2 linked regions of the Homo sapiens genome follow. The protein of the gene in region 1 purifies or fractionates together with the protein of each later gene. This does not show direct contact. Each region holds a gene or a part of one and is shown on either strand. Other genes may lie near its edges.

Region 1 (3,601 bases):
CCAACCAGCTCAGGATGGAGCTGGGATTATGAGGCAAGCTCCAGGTGCTGAGGCCAGCTGCTTGCCACTGGTGTCTTGCGGACATGTTGAATTTGAAGTGACCTTGGCCTCTAAGCAGAAGTGTGCTCTAAGAGGCTAAAAAGATGGTCTGGCACCCAGGTGAAAGGAGAAAGCAAGAGGTGCCCATTTGCAGAGGCTGGAAGTGGAGTCAGAGGAATGGTCAGAGGAGCCCTGAGGAGATGCTGTCGGGAGAAAGAACCTCCAGAGCCTAGAAAGATCTGGCAGCTTCCTGCAGAGGAGACATGGAAGGGAAAATTGGGTAAAATGTGCTAGCATTCAGCATGGTATAAAATGGAGAAGAAATCGGAAAAACAAATAGCTTTTTAACTTAGAAAAAGTAATTGCTCTCTGAGAATTCCAGGAAAAGAATTTTTGTGAACATGGTGGTCATAAACGAATTATAAACAGTTACTGTGGGCTAAGCACAGATCTGTTACAGACTGTGAAGGCCAGTTCAGGAGGTACAGTGCCCAGCTGCAAGAAAGTACAAGTTTAAAAGCACAAAGATACCAGAAGGCTGGAAAAGTAACTTAAGCTGTGAGTGAATCCTAGGAATCACTCCCATGCAAAGTATCGGGCCACCTTGAAAAGCACAGAGACTCTTACTGAGTTTATATTAGATGTTAATAATTTGTTTTCTTAAAATAATTTTTGTAGAGGCCTTTGTAAACAGTACAGGTGGTAAAAGTCAAATGAGACATTTTCATAAAATAGAAAGAAGGAAGGCTATGTTGGATGAATTCCTGCCCAGAATCCTCAGAGTACATTTGGAGAATGAGAGGGAGAAAAATAATCATATTTTAAATCTTAAATAAAATGTTTTTGATATGTCACATAGGCTTAAGGTAATGCCCTTTTCTGTGCATAATATACAGATATACGATGCAGCGAACTCCTTCTAATGACTTGGTAATTTTCTTCCTTAATCTTTTTTTCTGATGATAGAAAATGCTGTGTTTTTTCCCCTCGGTGAACACCATTGTGGACCGAGTACTGTTCTTAGCTTGTGACTCACTTCCTTGAGAGAGAAAGATAGTGGTATGTCTTTGGAGATGAGCACTATCATGATTTGGCTTCAGAAAATACATGAAACATAAGTGCTGTTATCCTAGAGAAGATTAAGACAAGAATTTAAGCACATAAACTATAGTAGTTAAGAGGATTTTAACACAAAAAATTATTAAAAGGACTTACTCTATTCCTTGATATATTCAAAAATCATTTATTTTCATCTGACTTTGCCATATAAGTCCTGCATGAAATATACTTTTGGAACTGCACAGTTCATTTTGGAGAACTCAGACTTAAAATCTGCTAGAGAAATTTCAGATAAACTAATAGAATTCCTAATCAGAGGGCCGCTCAGAACCATGACTGTCTAGATATTAGAATGGTAATTTTTTTTGTTTTTAATAATTAATTGAACTATTTTCAGACTAATTTGTTCTCTGCTTGCCTTAACTTTAATGAGAATTTTACTTTCCATCTGTGTGAAATTTGACTTATATTACATTCATCAGATTATTCACTTTTATGGGACTATTTGTATTTTAGCCAACTAACATTTTTTATTTTAGCTGGTTATGGTCCTAGTTCTACCAAATAAAGGCCATGATGAGTTCCATCCCTAGGAACAGGATGCTCTTATAAATCCTTTTAAATTTTACTTCCAGCCTGGAGAACAGCTCCCTCCAGAGATGACTGTGGCAAGATCTTCGGTCAAAGAGACCTCCAGAGAAGGCACCTCTTCCTTCCATACACGCCAGAAGTCTGAGGTATGTCACAATAAAATATGCCTGTAAACATTTGTTCAACATCATTACTGCCTAGCTTTTAAAATGTATTAATACCCAGTCTCCCACAAATAAGTTGAAGTGGCTTATAAAGTAAGTAGTTTTCCTTGTGGCATAATTCTGAGTTTTCTTTCAAAAAGATCATTAAGTCAATTATAGATTGATTAGGTACGGTTCTAAATTTGGGCCAGGTGGCTCACACATGTAATCCCAGCACTTTGGGAGGCTGAGGTGGGAGGATTGCTTGTGTCCAGGAGTTCAAGACCAGCCTGGGCAACATAGCAAGACCCCATCTCTACAAAAAGTTTAAAAAATTAGCTGGGTGTAGCAGCGTGTGCCTGTAGTCCCAGCTACTCGGGAGGCTGAGGCAGGAGGATTGCTTGAACTGGGGCAGTCAAGGCTACAGTAAGCCATGATCCTACTACTGCACTACAGCCTGGGCAATAGAGTGAGACCCTGTCTCAAGAAAAAAGTCATAGGCAATATTGTCATCAATGTGTGGCTTAACTTTTATAAATTTCTTTCCTGCCTCAGGGTGGAGTGTATCATGACCCACACTCTGATGATGGCACAGCCCCCAAAGAAAATAGACACCTATACAATGATCCTGTGCCAAGGAGAGTTGGTAGCTTTTACAGAGGTAAGCCCACCCCCGGCATTCAACAGGTTCCCCTCTCCTCCCTCTCTCACTTTATGTGCACACTGCTTTCACCGACTCAGGCCAGCGGCCTTCTCACCTACACTGTCGCCTTCCAGCGGTTCTCCCTGCCTCTGCTCCTGCTAAGTCAGGCCCTCCTGGCTTATGAATTGGCCTCCTTAGGTAGCCTCTTAACTGGTCTCCCTATCTCCAAGGTACCCATCAATATAGAGACTAGAGTGATCCTTCTGAAGCTGTGTTCTGACCATACCACTCATTTTGTTCTGTCAAGCCATAACATACTTATTGATGTTACCTGTGTGTCTGGCACTGTTCTGGCTTAGAACTTGTTGGTGAACAAGATAGTCAAAGATCTTCACCATCACGGAACTCACTTCCTCGGGAGGAGAGATGGACACTAAACATAATAATTATATAGAGCAGTAAAAGATATTAAGTGCTACAAGGGGGGAAAAAATAGAGCAAGGCATCCCATTGCCCACCCCACCCCACCCTACTCCTAATCCCCTATCACTCACCTGTTGAGAGTCTTTTGGTGGCTTCCCATTGGCATCAGGACAAAATCTGAATTCTCTAGGATGTCATTCCAGACTTCCCATGATCTGGCCCTTGCCATGCTCTCCAGCCACTTTCTCCCCCACCCCCCAGGTCTCTCTCGTACCCAGCCTATGGGACTGCACAGGCTGTGCCCTCCTCTGGCCTGTAATGTACTCTTCCTCCTGCTGGAACAGCTTGTTTCTGTCCCTTTCTTTAAGGTCCTCTTCAGTATAATATCTTCCCACAGTTTGTTCCAGATGGACTGAAACATTTTCTTCTCCGTTCTGTCTGTCGTACCTTGCCTGTAACTCTGATGTAACACTGACCACATTGCACTGATTCTTTGTCTGAGTTCTCTCTCACAAGGTTGTGAGACATTCAGTTCTCTTCGTGTTCTCTTCTTTTTATTCTCATTGACTAGTACACTGCCTCGCACAGTTTCATAAATATTTGTCAATTGAATTAAAGAAAAATTTCAAGTGTACTTGCACGGGCTAAAATGTACTTTGTTATTTAGCAGACAACTAAAACAGATGCTTTTGGGGTTGTACAA
Region 2 (3,601 bases), on another chromosome or scaffold:
AACAGAGTGAGACCCTGTCTCTAAAGAAACAAAAAATACCAAAAAAATTGAAAGTTTTTTTTTTTTTGAGATGGAGTCTTGCTCTGTTGCCCACGCTGGAGAGCAATGGCACGATCTCGGCTCACTGCAACCTCTGCCTTCTGAGTTCAAGCAATTCTCCTGCCTCAGCCTCCCAAGTAGCTCAGATTACAGGCATGTGCTACCACACCCAGCTAATGTTTTGTATTTTTAGTAGAGACGGGGTTTCAACATGTTGGCCAGGCTGGTCTCAAACTCCCGACCTCAGATGATCCGCCCACCTCAGTCTCCCAAAGTGCTGGGATTACAGGCATGAGCCACCACACTTGGCCAAAAATAATGTTTTTTAATAATGACTCTAATTTTTTTTTTTTCCTTTTTTGAGACAGAGTCTCACTCTGTTGCCTAGGCTGAAGTGCAGTGGCACCATCTCGGCTCCCTGCAACCTCTGCCTCCTGGGCTCAAGCAATTCTCCTGCCTCAGCCACTGGAATAGCTGGGATTACAGGCATGTGCTACCAAGCCCAGCTAATTTTTGTATTTTTAGTAGAGACCAGGTTTCGCCATGTTGGCCAGGCTGGTCTCGAACTCCTGGCCACAAGTGATCCACCTGCCTTGGCCTCCCAAAGTGTTGGGATTACAGGCGTGAGCCACCACACTTGGCTGACTCTGTAAATTATTTAATAAATTTTATTTTGCATTTAAGGTTATGTAACGAATTTGAGAATAAAGTTAATGTTAAAGTGGGTAAATTATTAGAAACAGAAACCTAATTTAACCTGTGACCTTACTTTTACAGGTGAAAATTTTATGAATCAGATAGACACAGAGTTTAAAGACAAGTTAATCTATAGATTAATTATGAAATAGTAAGTGTAGCCTTAATAATGAATATAAAATTGAGAACTGGACCAAAAAGTAGATAATACTGTAATTATTTAGTCCAGTAAATGTTCAAAGAACAAAGAATGAGGATAGAACAAAACAAAGTATTTTATCTATAAAACAATTAGTGAGGTTGGAAAAGGAAATTGACAAATCTTTTTTTTCTTTTTATTTTTTTTGAGATGGAGTCTCGCTCTGTCACCCAGGCTGGAGTGCAGTGGCACGATCTCGACTCACTGCAACCTCCGCCTCCCAAGTTCACACCATTCTCCTGCCTCAGCTTCCCGAGTAGCTGGAACTACAGGTGCCCGCCACCACGCCTGGCTAATTTTTTGTATTTTTAGTAGAGACAGGGTTTCACTGTGTTAGCCAGGATGGTCTCGATCTCCTGACCTCGTGATCTGCCCGCTTCGGCCTCCCAAAGTGCTGGGATTACAGGCGTCAGCCACTGCGCCCGGCCAACAAATCTTTTTTTTATATTAGGAGAAAAAAGTGGGGCTTGGCAAGTAAGATTCTGATATAAGAACAATTCTGTTAAAGAAAAAATGATCATGGTGAAATTGAGTAGATAAAATTGTCTGCAAAAACAGCGTAATTTCCAACCTGGCCAACATCGTGAAACCCGTTCTGTACTAAAAATACAAAAATTAGCCGGACACGGTGGCACGTGCCTGTAATTCCACCTACTCGGGAGGCAGAGACAGGAGAATTGCTTGAACCCGGGAGGCGGAGGTTGCAGTGAGCCAAGATGGCGCCACTGCATTCCAGCCTGGGCGACAGAGGGAGACTCTGTCTCGAAAAAAACAAAAAACACAGAAAAAAAACCCAACAAAAACCAGCATAACTGGAAGAGACTACAGAGTGGTCTTAAATATTAGGTGTAAGTCATTTTTTAATTTTTTGACGTTGCTCTATTTCATTTATTCAAATATTTATTGAGCACCTACTTTATGTCAGACATTGTTCTGGATACTAGGGGAAAACAGATGCTATCTCAACCTTTCCTGCAGCTCACATTCATTTCAACTCATATTTTTTAATTAATCAAAAGCATATGTGATCTATTCTGGTGTGGAAAAGAAAACATTTTTGAAAAGGAAAAAAAAGCATATGTGAAAACCTACATATATCCTATGATCTGGCAGTTCTACTCCTAGTTACTTACCCGAGAGAAATGAGAAAATACATTTACCAAAAACCTTGTACAAAAATGTTTATACTAGCTTTATTTGTTGGTGGTGAGTTATTATTATTTTTTTTTTTTGAGTCAGTGTCTCACTCTGTGGCCCAGGCTGGAGTGCAATGGCACAATCGCGGCTCACTGCAGCCTCAACCTCCCAGGTTCAAGTGTTCCTCCCACCTCAGTCTCCCAAGTAGCTCGAACTACAGGCACATGCTACCACATCTGGCTAATTTTTTAATTTATTTGTAGAGATAGGGTTTCACCATGTTGCTTAGGCTGGTCTTGAACTCCTGGGCTCAAGCGATCCTCCCATCCAGCCTCCCAAAGTGCTGGGATTACAAGTGTGAGCCACCATACCCAGCCTATACTAATTTTATTTGTAATAGCCAAAAACTGGAAACACCTCAAATGTCCATCAAAAAGGAAATTGATAAATAATGGAATGCTACTTAGCAAGAAAGATGAATAAACCACTGATACATTCAGTCATATTATGCTACATGGCAGAAGCTGGTCATAAAAAGTTATCTACTGTATGATACCATTTATATGAAATTCTAGAACAGACAAAACTAACCTGTGGTGATAGAATTCAGATCAGTGGTTGCTTCCGGAGATGAAAATGGGGATTGACTGGGAAGGGGCTAGAGGAGACTTTCTGGGATGTTAACAGTGTTCTGTATCTTAAATAGCCTAATTCAGACTTCTTTTATAAAGCAGAAAGTATATTGGGGATTATTACCATAGAGGTGGTTTGCTAACTAAGCATTATCTTTTCCTTATGAACAGTGACTTTGAATATAGATTGTATTAAATATTTTATTCATTTGGCAATCTACACATAGAATTTCTTTCTTTCTTTTTTTTTTTTTTTTGAGACAAAGTCTCGCTCTTGTCCCCCAGGCTGGAGTGCAATGGTATGATCTCAGCTCACTGCAACCTCCACCTCCCGGGTTCAAGCGATTCTCTTGCCTCAGCCTCTCGAGTAGCTGGGATTACAGGAGCCTACCACCACTCCCGGCTAATTTTTGTATTTTTAGTAGAGACGGGATTTCACCATGTTTGCCAGGATGGTCTCGAACTCCTCACCTCAGGTGATCCGCCCCCCTCGGCCTTCCAAAGTGCTGGGATTACAGGCATGAGCCACCGTGTGCCCTGCCCTTTTTTTTTTTTTTTTTTTTCCGAGATGGAGTCTCGCTCTGTTGCCCAGGCTGGAGTGCAGTGGCCAGTCTCGGCTCACTGCAACCTCCGCCTGCCACATTCTCCTGTCTCAGCTTCCCTAGTAGCTAGGATTACAGGCATCTGCCACCACGCCTGGCTAATTTTTGTATTTTTAGTAGAGACGGGGTTTCACCACATTGGCCAGGCTGGTCTCAGAACTCCTGATGTCTCAAGTGATCCACCCGCCTCGGCCTCCCGAAGTGCTGGGATTAGAGGCATGAGCCACTGCACCTGGCCTACATACAGAATTTCTTTATTTATTATTGTTATTTTTTGAGACGGAGTCTTGCTCTGT

What was found. The genes of interacting proteins can lie anywhere in the genome.
Region 2: the proteins of CDKL5 (region 1) and SAR1B purify together in Homo sapiens (affinity purification with mass spectrometry, with the first as the bait; one large-scale study listed by BioGRID). This does not show direct contact.

What each region holds. Positions count from the first base shown.
Region 1 is NC_000023.11:18,607,078-18,610,678, forward strand, and holds part of CDKL5 (cyclin-dependent kinase-like 5), read left to right. Parts: intron 1-1,733; coding exon 1,734-1,835; intron 1,836-2,387; coding exon 2,388-2,493; intron 2,494-3,601. UniProt on the Homo sapiens protein: Mediates phosphorylation of MECP2. May regulate ciliogenesis.
Region 2 is NC_000005.10:134,615,797-134,619,397, reverse strand, and holds part of SAR1B (small COPII coat GTPase SAR1B), read left to right. Parts: intron 1-3,601. UniProt on the Homo sapiens protein: Small GTPase that cycles between an active GTP-bound and an inactive GDP-bound state and mainly functions in vesicle-mediated endoplasmic reticulum (ER) to Golgi transport.